Linked DNA regions of Homo sapiens: region 2 is linked to region 1. The links come from fine-mapping of genetic effects on gene expression. Tissue or cell type: whole blood. Region 1 holds a variant in brackets; the other region holds the start of a gene. All regions are shown on one strand. Distances are between the middles of the regions.

Region 1 (8,104 bases):
GCAAGGAAAAACACGACCCAAAAGGGAAAAAGGTTAACAGATTTAACAAAAAAAAAAATTGCATTATGGGGAACAGATAAACTGTGCTATGGAACACTGTGTAGGGGTGGGAGACATCTTTTTTCCCAAGAAGAAGAAAGCAATGAGAAACCGCAGGAAAAACAACAACTGTACAAGAAAATCAATCCAGTTAAAAATTCAATAGGAATGATTTTCGGTAATCAATGGTAGGTAAGAAAGAAGAGCCCAGTGAACTCCAATGAGACAGTAACTGCACAAAAGGATCCACAGAATTGCAGCACACTATGTGACTGTGTAATGAAGGATACTAACTGTAAATGCCATTATTTGGCTTTATTAGATTTAACCCTTGATCAATCTCAGAAGACTTAGTTATGGTTATCGAAGAGAATAGAAACATTCTCAGCTTTGACAACATAAAAATAAGGGCACAGATGGCAGACGTTAGGAGGCAAAGGAAAAGTAGACAGAAGGTGCTAATTTTCTGTTTACAAAGTGGAAGTCAAAAAGAAGTTATTAAGAAATAGAGTTTTTAAAATATTATTTAAAATTAAAAAGGTAACCAACTTAAAAATGGTGATATAATTATGAAAAACAGGGATGGGTTGGTATGTAGAGTTAGAGATGAGGCTGATTCATTACACCACAAAAGTAAGTCAATAATGTCTAAAACTGGCTGGGCGCAGTGGCTCATGCCTGTAATCGCAGCACTTTGGGAGGCTGAGGCAGGTGGATCACTTGAACCCAGAGTTCAAGACCAACCTAGGCAACATGGCAAAACACCGTCTCTACTAAAAATTAAAAAAAATTAGCTGAGCATGGTGGCCTGCACCTATAGTCCCAGCTACTTGTGAGGCTGAAGTGGGAGGATCACTTGAACCTGGGAGGTGGAGGCTGCAGTGAGCCGAGATCACACCACTGCACTCCAGACTAGGTGACAAAGCGAGACCCTGTCTCAAAAAATAATAATGATAATAATGTCTAAAACTGATAAGTCAAGAAATGGTGCTCCAAACATATTATTTAGAAATACAGAGATAACTATTAGTAGATTTAAAACCCAAAGGACAGCGAAGTGTGGGAGGGTATGTTGCATTCATTATAAGCTCTTATGGATGAATGAATTTGTAATTCACATGCATGGATTATTTTAATAAATATAAACAGGTATCTAAATAATTGAAAGAAAAAAGGAAAAAAGATCAAGATTCTCTAGAGCTCATTTAGTCAAACTACCTTCCATCAGGGAGGTGAAAGAAAATGAATGCCCACTCCAACAGAAAAACTTCTGACACCTGATAAAGATTCGTGATCCAAAACTCTACCAAATTTATTCATCAGGGAAGCATAGTATCATCATTTAATTCAGAGTGAAGAAAGCAGTTTACAGGCTGAATCTTACCCTTCACTGTTTCTCTTCCTCCCTACTTTGTTCTTTCTCTATTTCTCAACTTTATTGTTCTCCTCTAGCTTTGCTTTACTAGCATGAATATTCAACTAAATACATATAAATAAATACATACAAAATACCAGTTTTATTTGTAGAATATAGTCTTATGTTTCCTAATTTTCCCTCAATACAAAAAACAGCAAATTAAGTTGATTTTCATTTCCATGTTGTCTACATTAATTTAAGTCCCTATGGGCATTACTGCTATAGAGAAAAAGATCTCTGCCACTGATTTAAGGAATGAACCCAAAATCACAAAAGGCAGCCCAGCTAAAACCAGAACAATAATGGCTCTTCAATGGGCTCATGTTTCTGGAGGCTGCCATATTACTCAGGCTTCAGCAATCAGGAGCTAGATTTCCATGTGGACACTTAACGGTGATTTACAGAGAAGAAAGCTTGAAGTCTTAAGTTCCCACAAAAGAAAGTAAAAACCTGAGAAGTTGAATGGTCATGTTAAGTGATCCCTGGTTTTGATCCACAGGAATTTCACAAGGCCCCCATTTCAGTGTGATCCACATGCACATCCAGGGGTATACTTACACTATATGTGCAAGGTCAAGTGGTTTCTCTGGTTGCTCAGGAAAAACAGGATGCGGGGGTTCTCTCGTGGGTACACACCCCAAAGATTTACTAATTGCATGGCTCAGCTTCTTTGCAGGAGATTTCTGTGTCAAAGCAGAAAATAGTAAGGAATTAACCCTTCAAAAGAATGAAAGGAACTTCAAAAAAGAAAAAAACTTTGTGACAAGAGTGTAAAAACATCTTTTCAAATACAAATCAAGTTTCATTACATCAATATCATTGGGCCTTTCAGAAAGGAACCTCCAGTTGTTCCAAGGTCATCTGTGGTCCTTCATTTCTGCAGTTCCTCCCTCATGTTTACTATAAAGTCACACTATCAAGTAATGTCAACTTTCCTTCTGGACATCTCTATGTACTCTTGGCAAGAACTCCCTCCTTTGATGCTTCTGGATCCTTTTTGCTAAGATGTTAACATTAATTTCCTGATCAGAGTCGGAACTTTTTGATGGAGGCCAGGCACGGTGGCTCATACCTATAATCCCAGCTCTTTGGAAGGCCAAGGTAGGTGGATCACCTGAGGTTGGGAGTTTGAGACTAGCCCAACCAACATGTTGAAACCATGTCTCTACTAAAAATACAAAATTAACCAGGCATGGTGGTGCATGCCTGTAATCCGTGCTACATGGGAACTGAGGCAGAAGAATTGCTTGAACCTGGGAGGCGGAGGTTGCAGTGAGCCAAGATCACGCCATTGCACTTCAGCCTAGGCAACAAGAGCAAAACTCTGTCTCAAAAAAAAAAAAAAAAAAAAAGAACTTTTTGATGGGCTACGATACTAAAAGGCTAAGAGCACACAGCTTATGGATGTTAGCAAATTAGCTAAGTAAGTCACATCCCCAAGATGTTAGGATATTCCCAAATAAACATGAGGCAGAACATTTGATATTAGGGGTCTGGTTATGCAGTCAGATACAGATACAGAGTACATTCACAATACACAGGCAGCACCAGACCCAGGACTCTATATTACAAAAATAAGTTGGCATACCAATACATTCTTCTGGAAGGTAGAATAATATCCACCAAAGACTACCAAGTCTAAGATTTAATCATAAATAAGCACAAAAGTAAGCAACATGCCACAATTAGGTTACACAGAACATTCACTTCTAAAACTCATATTTAAAGGAGGCTCCTTTTATACAGATTATACCGTCCACCCAATTCCCCTAAAATAACACTGTTATCTGAGATTTTCTTGGCAGGATATTAACTGTAAAAAAGTTTAAATATTTCATTCTGCTGCCTCTGCAGTTTATTATCATATGTGCCACTTTAATTGGAAAATAAAACATGGCTGCAGCTGTCTGCCTCATCAATGCCACGTCCCCAATAGACTTCTATATGCTGCTTGTTGTAGTATTTTAACACAAAGTAAAAATCTGTTTGCCTGAAAGACCATATAGGCACAGTTAATGAATACTTTATAATAAAGACTAAATAATACAATTTCTTCAGAAACTTCGTATATTGGCTCCAAATCACCTTCTACTATTCCCGTCAACATACTAAATTCTGGGAAAACTTGGTCAGGCACAGTGGCACACTCCTATAATCCCAGCACTTTGGGAGGCAGAGGCGGGTGCATCTCTTGAGCCCAGGAGTTTGAGATCAGCCTAAGCAACGTGGCGAAACCCGGTCTCTACAAAAAGTATCAAAAAAATTAGCTGGTGCGGTGGCATGTGCCTATAATCCCAGTGACTCGGGAAGCTGAGGTGGGAGGATCGCTTCAGCCCGGGCCGACGAGGCTGCAGTGAGCTGAGATTGTGCCAACTACACCCCACCCTGGGCGACAGAGTGAGACCCCATCTCAAAGAAAAGAAAAGAAAAACATTCTGGGAAAAGTCTAGATGTAACCTAATTTCCTGAAAGTATATAAAACGAAACATAGAAATTCTCAACTTCTCCCCTAACTTCTTTCCATTTTCCTTTTGCCCAACAAGTCGTGATGTGACGCTGATTCTTCCCCTATTAAAACCGTTTCTGCACTGCCCCCAGAGATCATGTCACTCTTCTGCTTAACATCCATCAAAGGCTGATAGTCACTTACAGAATGAGATCTAAATAAATGCCTTCATTTTCCATACAAAAGCTTTCACACCTGACTCCTGCCTCTCTCTCTTTCTACTTCCCACTCAC[G/A]TTAAGTGATAAGCTGCTCACAGTTGACTCAAAATACACTGTGTTCTTTTAGGTCTCTGTATCTTGGCATGTGCCTTTCCCAGGTCTCCCTTTCCCAATCTATCTTTCTGTACATTTTTTTCTCATCTCTCAAGCCTGCTGGTCAGCATCCTTTCCTCTGTGAAGACTTTCCTCACTGCTCCATACGACAGCAAGTGCCTTTCCAGGCTACCCATTTACCTGTACCTGTTTCCACTGTTGCACTCACCATGCTATACTGCTGCTACACTGCAATTTTTATTTTTATTTTTATTTATTTATTTATTTATTTATTTATTTTTTGGAAATGCAGCGTTTATTTTTTTTTTAATTTTTTTTTAAGTATTTATTGATCATTCTTGGGTGTTTCTCAGAGAGGGGGATGTGGCAGGGTCATAGGATAATAGTGGAGAGGTCAGCAGATAAACACGAGAACAAAGGTCTCTGGTTTTCCTAGGCAGAGGTCCCTGCGGCCTTTGGCCTTCGGCCCTGTTTGTGTCCCTGGGTACTTGAGATTAGGGAGTGGTGATGACTCTTAAGGAGCATGCTGCCTTCAAGCATCTGTTTAACAAAGCACATCTTGCACCGCCCTTAATCCATTTAACCCTGAGTGGACACAGCACATGTTTCAGAGAGCAGGGGGTTGGGGGTAAGGTTATAGATTAACGCATCCCAAGGCAGAAGAATTTTTCTTAGTACAGAACAAAATGGAGTCTCCTATGTCTATCTCTTTCTACACAGACACAGTAACAATCTGATTTCTGTTTCTTTTCCCCACATTTCCCCCTTTTCTTTTCGACAAAACCGCCATCGTCGTCATGGCCTGTTCTCAGTGGTCGCTGTCTCTTCGGAGCTGCTGGGTACACTTCCCAGATGGGGCGGCCTGGCAGAGGCGCTCCTTCACTTCCCAGACGGGGCGGCTGGGCAGAGGCACTCCTCACTTCCCAGTCGGGGCGGCCGGGCAGAGGTGCTCCTCACCTCCCAGACGGGGTGGCGGCCGGACAGAGGCACTCCTCACCTCCCAGACAGGGTGGCGGGTGGGCAGAGGCGTTCCTCACATTCCAGACGATGGGCGGCCGGGCAGAGGCGCTCCTCACCTCCCAGACAGGGTGGCCGGGCAGAGGTACTCCCCACCTCCCAGACGAAGAGCGGCCGGGCAGAGGTGCCCTCCACTTCCCAGATGGGGCGGCTGGGCAGAGGCGCTCCTCACTTCCCAGACGGGGCGGCCGGGCAGAGGCACTCCCCACCTCCCAGATGAAGAGCGGGTGGGCAGAGGCGCTCCTTACCGCCCAGACAATGAGGTGCTCCTCACCTCCCAGACGAAGAGCGGCCGGGCAGAGGCGCTCCTCACCTCCCAGACGAAGAGCGGCCGGGCAGAGGCGCTCCTCACCTCCCAGACGGGGTGGCCGTGCAGAGGTGCTCCTCACTTCCCAGACGGGGCAGCCGGGCAGAGGTGCTCCTCACTTCCCATTCGGGGCAACCGGGCAGAGGTACTCCTCACTTCCTCCCAGACGGGGCAGCCGGGCAGAGGCACTCCTCACATCCCAGACTATGGGTGGCCAGGCAGAGACGCTCCTCACTTCCTAGACGGAGTGGCAGCCAGGCAGAGGCGCTCCTCACTTCCCAGACGGGGGTGGCCAGGCAGAGGTGCTCCTCACCTCCCATTCGGGGCAGCCGGGCAGAGGCGCTCCTCACTTCCTCCCAGACGGGGAGGCCGCGCAGAGGTGCTCCTCACCTCCCAGAGGGGGCGGCCAGGCAGAGGCGCTCCTCACCTCCCATTCGGGGCAGCCAGGCAGAGGCGCTCCCCACTTCCTCCCAGACAGGGTTGCTGGGCAGAGGCGCTCTTCACTTCCCAGACGGGGCGGCCGGGCAGAGGCGCTCCTCACATCCCAGACGATGGGCGGCCACGCAGAGATGCTCCTCACTTCCTAGACGGGGTGGCAGCTGGGCAGAGGCGCTCCTCACCTCCCAGACAGGGCGGCCGGGCAGAGGGGCTCCTCACATCCCAGACAATGGGCGGCCAGGCAGAGGCGCTCCTCACTTCCTAGACGGGGTGGCTGCCGGGCAGAGGCGCTCCTCACTTCCCAGACGGGGGTGGCCAGGCAGAGGCACTCCTCACTTCCCATTCAGGGCAGCCGGGCAGAGGTGCTCCTCACTTCCTCCCAAACGGGGCGGCCGGGCAGAGGCGCTCCTCACCTCCCAGAGGGGGCGGCCAGGCAGAGGTGCTCCTCACCTCCCATTCGGGACAGCCAGGCAGAGGCGCTTCTCACTTCCTCCCAGATGGGGCAGCCGGGCAGAGGCGCTCCTCACCTCCCAGAGGGGGCGGCCAGGCAGAGGCGCTCCTCACCTCCCATTCGGGGCAGCCGGGCAGAGGTGCTCCCCACTTCCTCCCAGACGGGGCGGCTGGGCCGAGGCGCTCCTCACTTCCCAGACGGGGCGGCCGGGCAGAGGCACTCCTCACATCCCAGACGATGGGCGGCCACGCAGAGATGCTCCTCACTTCCTAGATGGGGTGGCGGCCGGGCAGAGGCACTCCTCACCTCCCAGACGGGGCGGCCGGGCAGAGGGGCTCCTCACATCCCAGACAATGGGCGGCCAGGCAGAGATGCTGCTCACTTCCTACACGGGGTGGCGGGCGGGCAGAGGCTGTAATCTTAGCACCTTGGGAGGCCAAGGCAGGCAGCTGGGAGGTGGAGGTTGTAGCGAGCCGAGATCACGCCACTGCACTCCAGCCTGGGCAACATTGAGCAATGAGTGAGTGAAACTCCGTCTGCAATCCCAGCACCTCGGGAGGCCGAGGCGGGCAGATCACCCGAGGCCAGGAGCTGGAGACCAGCCCGGTCAACACGGCGAAACCCCGTCTCCACCAAAAACACAAAAACCCCTAAGGAGTGGCGGCGTGTGCCTGGAATCCCAGGCACTCAGCAGGCCGAGGCAAGAGAATCACCGGAGCCCGAGGCAGGGAGGTTGCAGCGAGCCGAGATCATGGCAGTACAGTCCAGGCTCCGCAAGAGAGGGAGACGGTAGAAAGAGGGAGACAGAGAGCGAGAGCGAGAGGGGAGATGGGAGACGGGAGAGGGGAGAGGGAGAGCTTTTATTTATTTATCTGTCACCAGGCTGGAGTGCAGTGGGGTGATCTCGGCTCACTGCAACCAGCGCCTCCCGGGTTCAAGCAATTCTCCTGCCTCAGCCTCCTGAGTTGCTGGGACTACAGGCGCGTGCCACCATGCCTGGCTAATTTTTGTATTTTTAGTAGATACGGGGTTTCACCTGGTTGGCCAGGATGGTCTCAATCTCCTGACCTCGTGAACCACCTGCCTCAGCCTCCCAAAGTGCTGGGATTACAGGCATGAGCCACCGTGCCTGGCCCCATACTGCAATTTTTAATTTGTTTGTCCATCTCTGTTATACTGCTGCTTCTGAGGGGTAGGATCTACATCTTATTCATCTTTGTATTTGAACAAATTATTTACCTAGATGAATTTTCCAGATTGCTTTTACCTACCTAGTAAAACCATATAAATCTTTTTTTTTTTGAGGATTACAAGTAGATGCAATCAGAGGACATCAAAGAGAACACCTTACTTTTACCTTTATAATGAAACACTGCATCTGTCATCCATGTATTAATTTCATGATTTTTTGCTATATCTGCCATTAATTCATGCAATGTATGTGAAATGCATTATCACACAGACTACTTTAGCTCCATCCTAAAAATAATAGCCATGAAATAGAAAGGTAAAATCAATACATCAAGATGAATTCCAAATAATTAAGGCACATCAAGGGCAGCTTGGTATGTATGGGAAGGAAAAAAGACTGAAATAAAGACATGTAATTAGAGTATTAACTAAGGCCTAGGAGAAACCAAAAAAGAGATTACCCTAA
Region 2 (8,104 bases), 140 kb after region 1:
CAATATTAGTTTATCAATTATAATAAATGTAGCATACTAATGCAAGATGTTAATAATAGGAGAAACCATATGGGAAAGAGTGGGTATATGGAAACTCCATACTATTCAGCCACATTGGTCAAAATTGTGTTAATCTATTTTTATTCCATTATGTATATTGTTTTAAAAACTGTATTACTGACAATTGCACTTGAGTACATACACAAAAGAAATGGAAACAGAGACTTAAACAGACATACAGATACCAATGTTCATAGCAGCACTCCTTGTAATGGCCAAAACGGGGAAACAACCCAAATGTCCATCAATGAATGAATAAACAAAATGTGGTATATTCATACCATGGAATATTATTCAGCCTTAAAAAGGAAATTTTCACACATGCTACAATATGAATGAACTTTAAGGACATTATACTAAGTGAAATCAGCCAGATACAAAAGGGCAAATATTGTAATGATTCCATTCATATGAGGTACCTAGAGTAGTCGAATTCATAGAGACAGAAAGTAGAATGGTGGTTGCCAGGCGCTGAGGGAAGAATGGGGAGCTGGTGTTTAAGGGGTACAGAGTTTCAGTTGGGGATGATGAAAAAGCTCTGGAGACAGTGGTGATGGCTGTGCAACAATGTGAATGTATTTCATGCTACAGAACTGTACACTTACAATGGTTAAAATTGTTATTTTTATGTTATGTGTATTTTACTATAATAAAAAAAGTTAGAGTGCTGAAAAACTGGTCATCCAAATTGAAAAAAAAATTGTATCTTTTCATTATACCATACATAGAAATAAATTCCATCTGGAAAGCAAAACTTTTTTAAACTTTTGGAAGAAACTCTAAGAATATATCATTAACACCATGAGAGACAGAAAATTTTCTTAAACCAGATACACACCCAAAAAAAGACAAGCCATTTAAGGGAAATTTTTCATAAATATGACATTAAACTTAAATGGTATATACAACCAAATACATTGTTAACAAAGGGAAAGAAAAGCCTAGGGCTGGCAGGATGCATTTGCAACACACAGACCCACTGAAGAATCAGCATCTAAAGGAACCCAACTGTTCCTCAGTGAGTAAAAGGACACGTGCGCTGTGATGTAAGTCCACAACCGGGCCAGGTGCAGGGGCTCATGCCTGTAATCCCAACGCTTTGGGAGGATCACTTGCCAGCCTGAGCAACATGGCGAGACTGCATCTCTACAAAAAATTTTAAATGGTGGCACGCAAGTGTAGTCCCAGCTACTTGGGAGAATCACTTGAGCCCTGGAGTGCCACTGCACTCCAGTCTGGGCGACAGAGGAAGACCCTATCTCAAAAAAAAAAAAAAGCCTACAACTGAATACACTAAGCAGTTGAAAATAAATGGATTAAATCCACAAGCAGCAACATGGTTATAGCCCCATCAGTTATGAAGTAAAACGCATACCTCTGACCCAGCAACTGTAGTTTTTCATTCACTGCAGCAACGGTCCTTAATGAGAATACTAAATAAACTACGATACATACTACATAAGAGATTGTGTAGTAGTTAAGAAGACTCAGGTTGATTCCTGTGTTCCAACATGAAAAAATCTCAAAATCATTCTGTTAGGGGAAAAAACTGCAGAACAATGTGTATGGTATGATGTCATTAATGCAGAGGAGAAAAAACTCTGCTCTTTTTTTATTCTGTATTACCTATATATACATGAAAATACATAGAGAATAGCCTGGAAAGACCACAAAAACTGATAACTTCTGTTTCTGTGAGTAGGTCAAGGGGGCCTTTATTCTGTCTATACTGTTTTGAGTATCAGATGAGTTTGTGTTCCCTATATATACATGAAAATACATAGAGAATAGTCTGGAAAGACCACAAAAACTGATAACTTGTTTCCGTGAGTAGGTCAAGGGGGCCTTTATTCTGTCTGTACTGTTTGAGTATCTGACAAGTGAGTGTGTGTTCTGAGCCACCTGCAGAGTTGCAGCACACAGTCACACAGAGTGTGCACTACACAACTCCAGCAGCTGCCAGGCACAAGGACTCCAATGTGAATGGTGCTCCCTAAAGCTGGGCAGAATACAATCTACACAACTAGGTGCCACAGCTCTGATGCTCGTGTAATTCGAAATCAATAAAAGGGAGTAGGGAAGATAGAGAATGGACTGCAAACCAGCATAAGGGAACATTCTGGGGTGATGGAAATTTCTTGATTGGAATGGTGGTTACAAAGTATACAGCAGTCTCCCCTCAGAAATAAACAATTTGTAAGTTTTAAGTTGTGTACCATTCTGAATAGCGTGACGAAATTTTGTGCCATCCCACTCTGTCCCACCTGGGATATGAACTATCCCTTTCTCCAGCATATCCACACTGCATAAGCCACCTTCTGGTTACTCACTTAGTAGCTGTCTCAATGATCAGATTGACTGTCATGGTATCACAGTGCTTGTGTTCAAGTGACCACTGTTTTACTTAATAATAAAGTGCAAGAGTAGTGATGCTGGCAATTGGGATATGCCACAGAGAAGCCAAACATATGCCTAAGAGAAGTCATTAATCTCTCATGGCAACTAATTTATAAGTTAAAACTTTATCATAGATACTTAAGTATAGGGAAAAAACAGTCTATATAGGGTTTGGAATTAACTGTGGCTTCAGGCATCCACTGGTGCTCTTGGAACATATCCCTGAGGCTAATGGGGGGACTACTGTACACATTTTTCCAAAACTCATCCAACCGCACACGGGAAATCTGTGCATTTTATTTTGTCAACTATACGTCAAAAAGTTGGTTTTAAAATAAATACATAAACAAAATATCATTGAGAGAGCCTGGAATAAGGCACCCAATATTGTAGAACCTAGGCACCTCTCAACAAGAGACCTGCTGGCTGTACAGCCCTGAAACAGGAGAAATAAATTTACTTCTTCAAGGCTTCCTATACAATGCCAGATTTTGATTATTACTTATTTTTCACACGAAGAAACTAAGGCCCTGAGAGAGTAACATAAAGACATAAAATAAACAATAAGTTGAAATTCTCTTGGTTCTGAGTCTAATTTTCTAACCATAGGTAGAAATTTGTCTCTCGGGCATAGTGGACATCCAAAAACTCTGCCAGCACTACCTTGACTGCACAACCCCTTTCAAAGGCAATTCCACTTATGCATGATAAAAATCCTTAGAGAACTCATAAAAGGTCAAGTTTTAATTTGGCAGACAAAGTAACCCAACAGGCACTGCAACCCAGGTTACTGAAACAGCAGCCTGGAGCTCCAGAGTTCAGAGATTCAACCAAGGCAGAGCACAGGTAGAATTCCAGCCCTTACAGAAAAGCAGAGGCACCAACAGCCTCGCACTACAGGTCTAAGACCCAAGAACCAGGACCAAAATGAAAAAGTGTTCTCTAGACAACACTACCCTCTTCCTTCTCAAGTAATAGAAAAAGCCAATGGGAGAAGGAACAAAATGGGATGATCTCAAGCAACAGGCCAAGGAGCAAGCTCTTGAAGGCCAACATGAAAGACACATGGGAAAGTGGTAGCATGGCCACAGAAACCAAGACCTCGCCGCCTTAGCCATTGCTTTAACGTGCCCAGACCTCAGAACCGGGGTTGCCTCGCATAGCAAAAAAAAAAAAAAAAAAAAAAAAAAAAAAAGAGGCAGAGAGAGAGAACTTGTGGAACAGGAGAAATCCAGCAACCTTCCCTAACACTAGAGTGACTGACACTGCTCCATGGCAAATGTGGCCAAACCTTGCTTGTCCATTCATTCATGCAATAGACACTTATGGCTCAACCGCTGTGAGCCAGGCAACATTCTGAAGATTTAGCAGTCAATAGTCATGGAGCTTATTTCTAGATGGGAAGGAAGGAAACTTCCTTTCTTTCCAAACGTCTTTTTTCCCCATCTAAGAGCCCCCTTTAAATGTTACCCGTAGGAGCCTTCAAAACTCTCCCAAATTTCTCCCATAGGCTTCTTTTGACCTTTCTGCTTTATCCCCAAAACCACGCAATTTATGGCTCCAATTTCCCAATACTGGGAAAAGACAAAAGAGACCGAAAGTAAATAGGGCATGCGACATAAAATTCGACGCTCCTTTGTATTTCATGTGCATATCTTCACAGCCACACTGTCAGCACCTCAATAACATGACGGTGTTCCATACTATTTCGTGGCCCCAGTGCTGACTACGGGTCTCTACCTACGGTAGCTGGAAGGTCTTCCTAATCCCAAGGCCTGGCACAGGAATTTAAGGGCAAGTATTCGTCACCGGCATCCTCGTCTCGGGACACTTCTTTCCTGTCCAGGGTGACCTCCTGGACAGGTTCGCTATTAGGCGCCTCGGGAAACAGTGATTTGGGGTGATCTGAAATAAATACCCTTCCCTCTGCCAGGGCCTGCCCGCCTCACCTGCCCTCTGCCAGGACCTGCCTCACTCGCCCCTTCAGCACCTAACGCAGAGCCGCCTCCAGGCGAGCCGGGCTCGGGCAGCATCAGCCCGGCGCCGGGCCCCCGCTCGCGCCCGTGCCCCGGCGCGTTCCGGACCCCGATACCCCTCCCGGCCCGGGATCCGCCGCATCCCCTCTGCCTGTCCCTCCGGGGCTAGCCGCGCCGTCCCACCTCGCAGCCGCGCGCGGTGCAGCGGCCCCGGCTCCCCGCGCCCTCCCCGACTCCTGCAGCGCCGCACCCGCAGGCTCCCGGGTCCCCAGTCCCGGCGCAGCGCGAGCTGCCGTCCCGCACCTCGCGGGCGCGAGGCTCCAGCCCAGCTCGTCTCCCCACAGCCCCGGCGGCGGCCGCAGACCCCCACCTTGCTCACTTCCCCGCCGGAGCAGGGGTCGTCGGGAAGGTCTCCTGCGGCCTCACTCCTCCGCACGCTCCGGCCCAGCCCCCTCGGCTGAGGCAGCGGCAGCGCCTACTCAGGCCCCGGAGCCACCCCCGCGGCGAACGTTCGCAGCGCCCGGCTCGCGCCGCTTCTCCGCCCGGCACGCGCAGCGCCCGCCCCCGGCGCGAGGGCGCGAGGGCGGAGGGCGGAGGGCGGATGGGCGGGCGCGCGCCCAGCGCGAGCGCGCGGCCGGGGGCGTGGCTTCCGCGCGCGGGGAGGGGGCGGGAGCGGCCGAGCAACCCCCCTCCACCCCGCCCCCGCGGCCGCGCCCCGCCCACCGGTCGCCGGCGGGTTCCGGGCAGGCGGGAAGCTGGCTCCATCCAGGCTTCTCCCGCTCGCTGGCGTCGGGCCGGGTGTCTTTCCATCCGCAGGTATCCGTCGGCGGGGTGCCCGGCCCGACGTGACTACCCGACAAAGAATGCAAAGAGCCACCCCGTGAATCATTCTCCGCGCCTGGGTCACAAGCCTGTGCCCGAGTGACCCCCGTGAACTCCGCAAGCTAGCCCAGCCGCGGCGTGCGCCCCGCGCTGCACCAGGTGCCTGTGGGCGCACGATCACGGTCACGGCGCCTGGGCTCGAGGCGCCCCAAACTTAGCGGGGAAAACAGCCATGTACACAACCAAGTCCGATGACCCGTGCAGAGCCAAGCCACGGTGCGATGCTGGCACAGAAGCTAGAGACGACTTCTGCTTGGACGCCGCAGAGGGCTAGAGGCGGCATTTATGGTCAACCTCGAAGGAAGAAAAAGAAGTCCTAGGAGGAAAAAGGGAGGACATTAGGGCTGGGAAAACAGTTTGGGCAAAGGAGCCGGGGCAGCCAGGTTTACCATCTCAGCACCAGCTTTTTTGTGTTTTACTGTTATCCATCTTTTATAGAATTCTTTCCAAACTGTGAAATACAGGAGATGGTGCCAAATTAGAATATAGCAAGGACTTTTTGAATGGTTCAAATGGTCATTCTCAACGTTACTTAAGACTCAAAACAGCAACGTCCTTTGGGGGCTATTGGTCAATGATGAAGGCTGTAAGCTCCAGAGCTAAGCGACCCCAGGCCTGCATGCTGGGAGTATGGTTTTCACTGCTTTTTGGCACCTTACGGTAAGGCAGATCGTGCCACCTCCTGCTGCTGCCTGCCTGCCTGCCTGCCTGCCTTTAGAACACCCTCTTCCTCCTCCTCTCCTCTTTTTATTTTTAAACTCCTATGGTGAAGGAAATGCTGATAACCAACTTTGTTAAATGGGAACAAATAGGTTCCTCAAAAGATGAGCATTTTCTGGCCTGCCGCGGAGGCTCACGCCTGTAATCCCAGCACTTTGGGAGGCTGAGGCAGACGGATCACTTGAGGTCAGGGGTTCGAGACCAGCCTGGCCAACATGGCGAAACTCTGTCTCTACTAAAAATACAAAAATTAGCCGGGCGTGGTGGTGTACGCCGTAATCCCAGCTACTTGGGAGGCTGAGGCAGGAGAATCGCCTGAACCTAGGAGGCAGAGGTTGCAGTGAGTCGAGATCGCACCACTGTACTCCAAGTCTGGGCAAGAGAGTGAGACTCCGTCTCAAAATAAATAAATAAAGATGGACATTTTACCTTTTACCTTACATATATGAAGTGTGTGAATATTTTCATGCTTGAGGAGACTTATCTCTTGTAGGCACGGTCTTGGCTATGTTTTGTACATATTAAGATACTCAGAATACAGGTAAGAGACCTCTAGCTTCTTTATTTGCCCTTTTTGAGCACCCCCTATGTGGAAGGCATTGAGAGGGGTAAAACATTGATTCTGTTCTTTGGAGAAAAGATGTGTAAATAATATAAAATAAATGTGTAAATATCGCTTGATATGTTCGGTTTATTGATTGAAACCAAGGTAATTTCAATATGTGGACTAGACAATCCTAAACCATAAGGGAATTAAATACTTCAAGGACACTGTATTGGCATCTCTCCATCTCTGTTCTCTATTTCTTCACCTCCCACATCCTCAGAAAACTTTTCAAACACCTTTCAATCATTCTCCCCCTCTCACTCCAAAATTACCAACTTCTCTTTACTTGTCTCTTTCCTTCATCATCTATTCATGTTTAAGCTTTTCCTGTCCTCAAGAAAAAGGAAGAAACCCTTTCGCTGTCCCTCTAGATTCTGCTTCAGTTACTAGTCCCTCTCTGAGTTTTCCTTCATAAATATCTTGAAAGTCATCTACCCTCATCTCTACCTCCTCAGCAGCTCCTCAGCTCCTCAAACCTATGTAGTTTCTGTCCACACCACATCACTGCATTGCTCTCAGTCATGAATGGCTTGTTGGATCCTAAATACCACAAGCCATCTCTGAGTCCTCATATTGTTAGAACTCTCAGTGACATTGAACAGAGTAGCCCACTCTTTCTGAAACTCCCTTGGTGTCATGGCATGACTCCTGTCTTAACCCCTGTGACCACTTCTCAGTTTCACAGATTCTCTCCTCAGCTGGTCTCACGCCACACATTCTCCCTGGACCATTCCATCCACTCCGCTTCTTTATCTACCGCATATCAGCAACTCCCAAGTGCACTCTCTCTAGCTCAGGCCACTCATCTGGGTTCCTTATTCACAAAAGCCCGCCAGACTTCTCCACCTGGGTGTCCTAGAGGTACCCCACGTTCTACATGTCTAAACTACTGTCCACCCAGTTGACCAATTCAGAAACTGGGGGGCCATTCTTGATTCCTTCTTCTCCCACCACCCCTCTGCCCTGACTCCATACCCAACAACCACTAAGTCCCATTGATGCTTCCTCATAAATAAATAACTAGAATCTTTCCCTCTTAGCCCACCTCCCCTAAACTAATGCAGCAGCTTTGTTTGTTTGTTCTGGGACGGAGTCTCGCTCTGTCACCCAGGCTGGAGTGCAGTGGCACGATCTTGGCTCACTGCAACCTCCGCCTCCCAGGTTCACGCGATTCTCCTGCCTCAGCCTCCTGAGTAGCTGGGATTACAGATGCCCATCATCATGCCTGGCTAATTTTTATATTTTTAGTTAGAGACGGGGTTTCACCATGTGGACCAGCCTGGTCTCAAACTCCTGGCCTCAAGTGATCCCCACCTGCCTTGGCCTCCCAAAGTACTGGGATTACAGGCGTGAGCCACTGCGCCTGGCCATGCAGCAGCTTTTTATGTGGTCTCCCTGCCAGTCTTGCTGCTTCCAATCCATCTTCCATGCTGCAGATTAGAGAAAGCTTTCAAAAATTTAC

Evidence for each region. PIP is the estimated chance that this variant, and not a neighbour inherited with it, causes the effect.
Region 2: DTNB starts here. The variant in region 1 is fine-mapped to the expression of DTNB in whole blood (TOPMed, PIP 0.91).

The regions. Positions count from the first base shown.
Region 1 is chr2:25,529,459-25,537,562 of GRCh38, forward strand. DTNB (dystrobrevin beta) reads right to left here. Exons shown (of 21, transcript NM_021907.5): 9 at 2,015-2,139. Among named protein-coding and RNA genes, the nearest start is that of DTNB-AS1, 110 kb to the left of the region's middle. RefSeq lists an enhancer at 5,656-6,485. The variant G/A (reference allele first, on the strand shown) is at 4,196.
Region 2 is chr2:25,668,583-25,676,686 of GRCh38, forward strand. DTNB (dystrobrevin beta) reads right to left here and starts at 4,995. Exons shown (of 21, transcript NM_021907.5): 1 at 4,804-4,995. RefSeq lists silencers at 4,444-5,373, 4,738-5,032 and an enhancer at 7,181-7,390.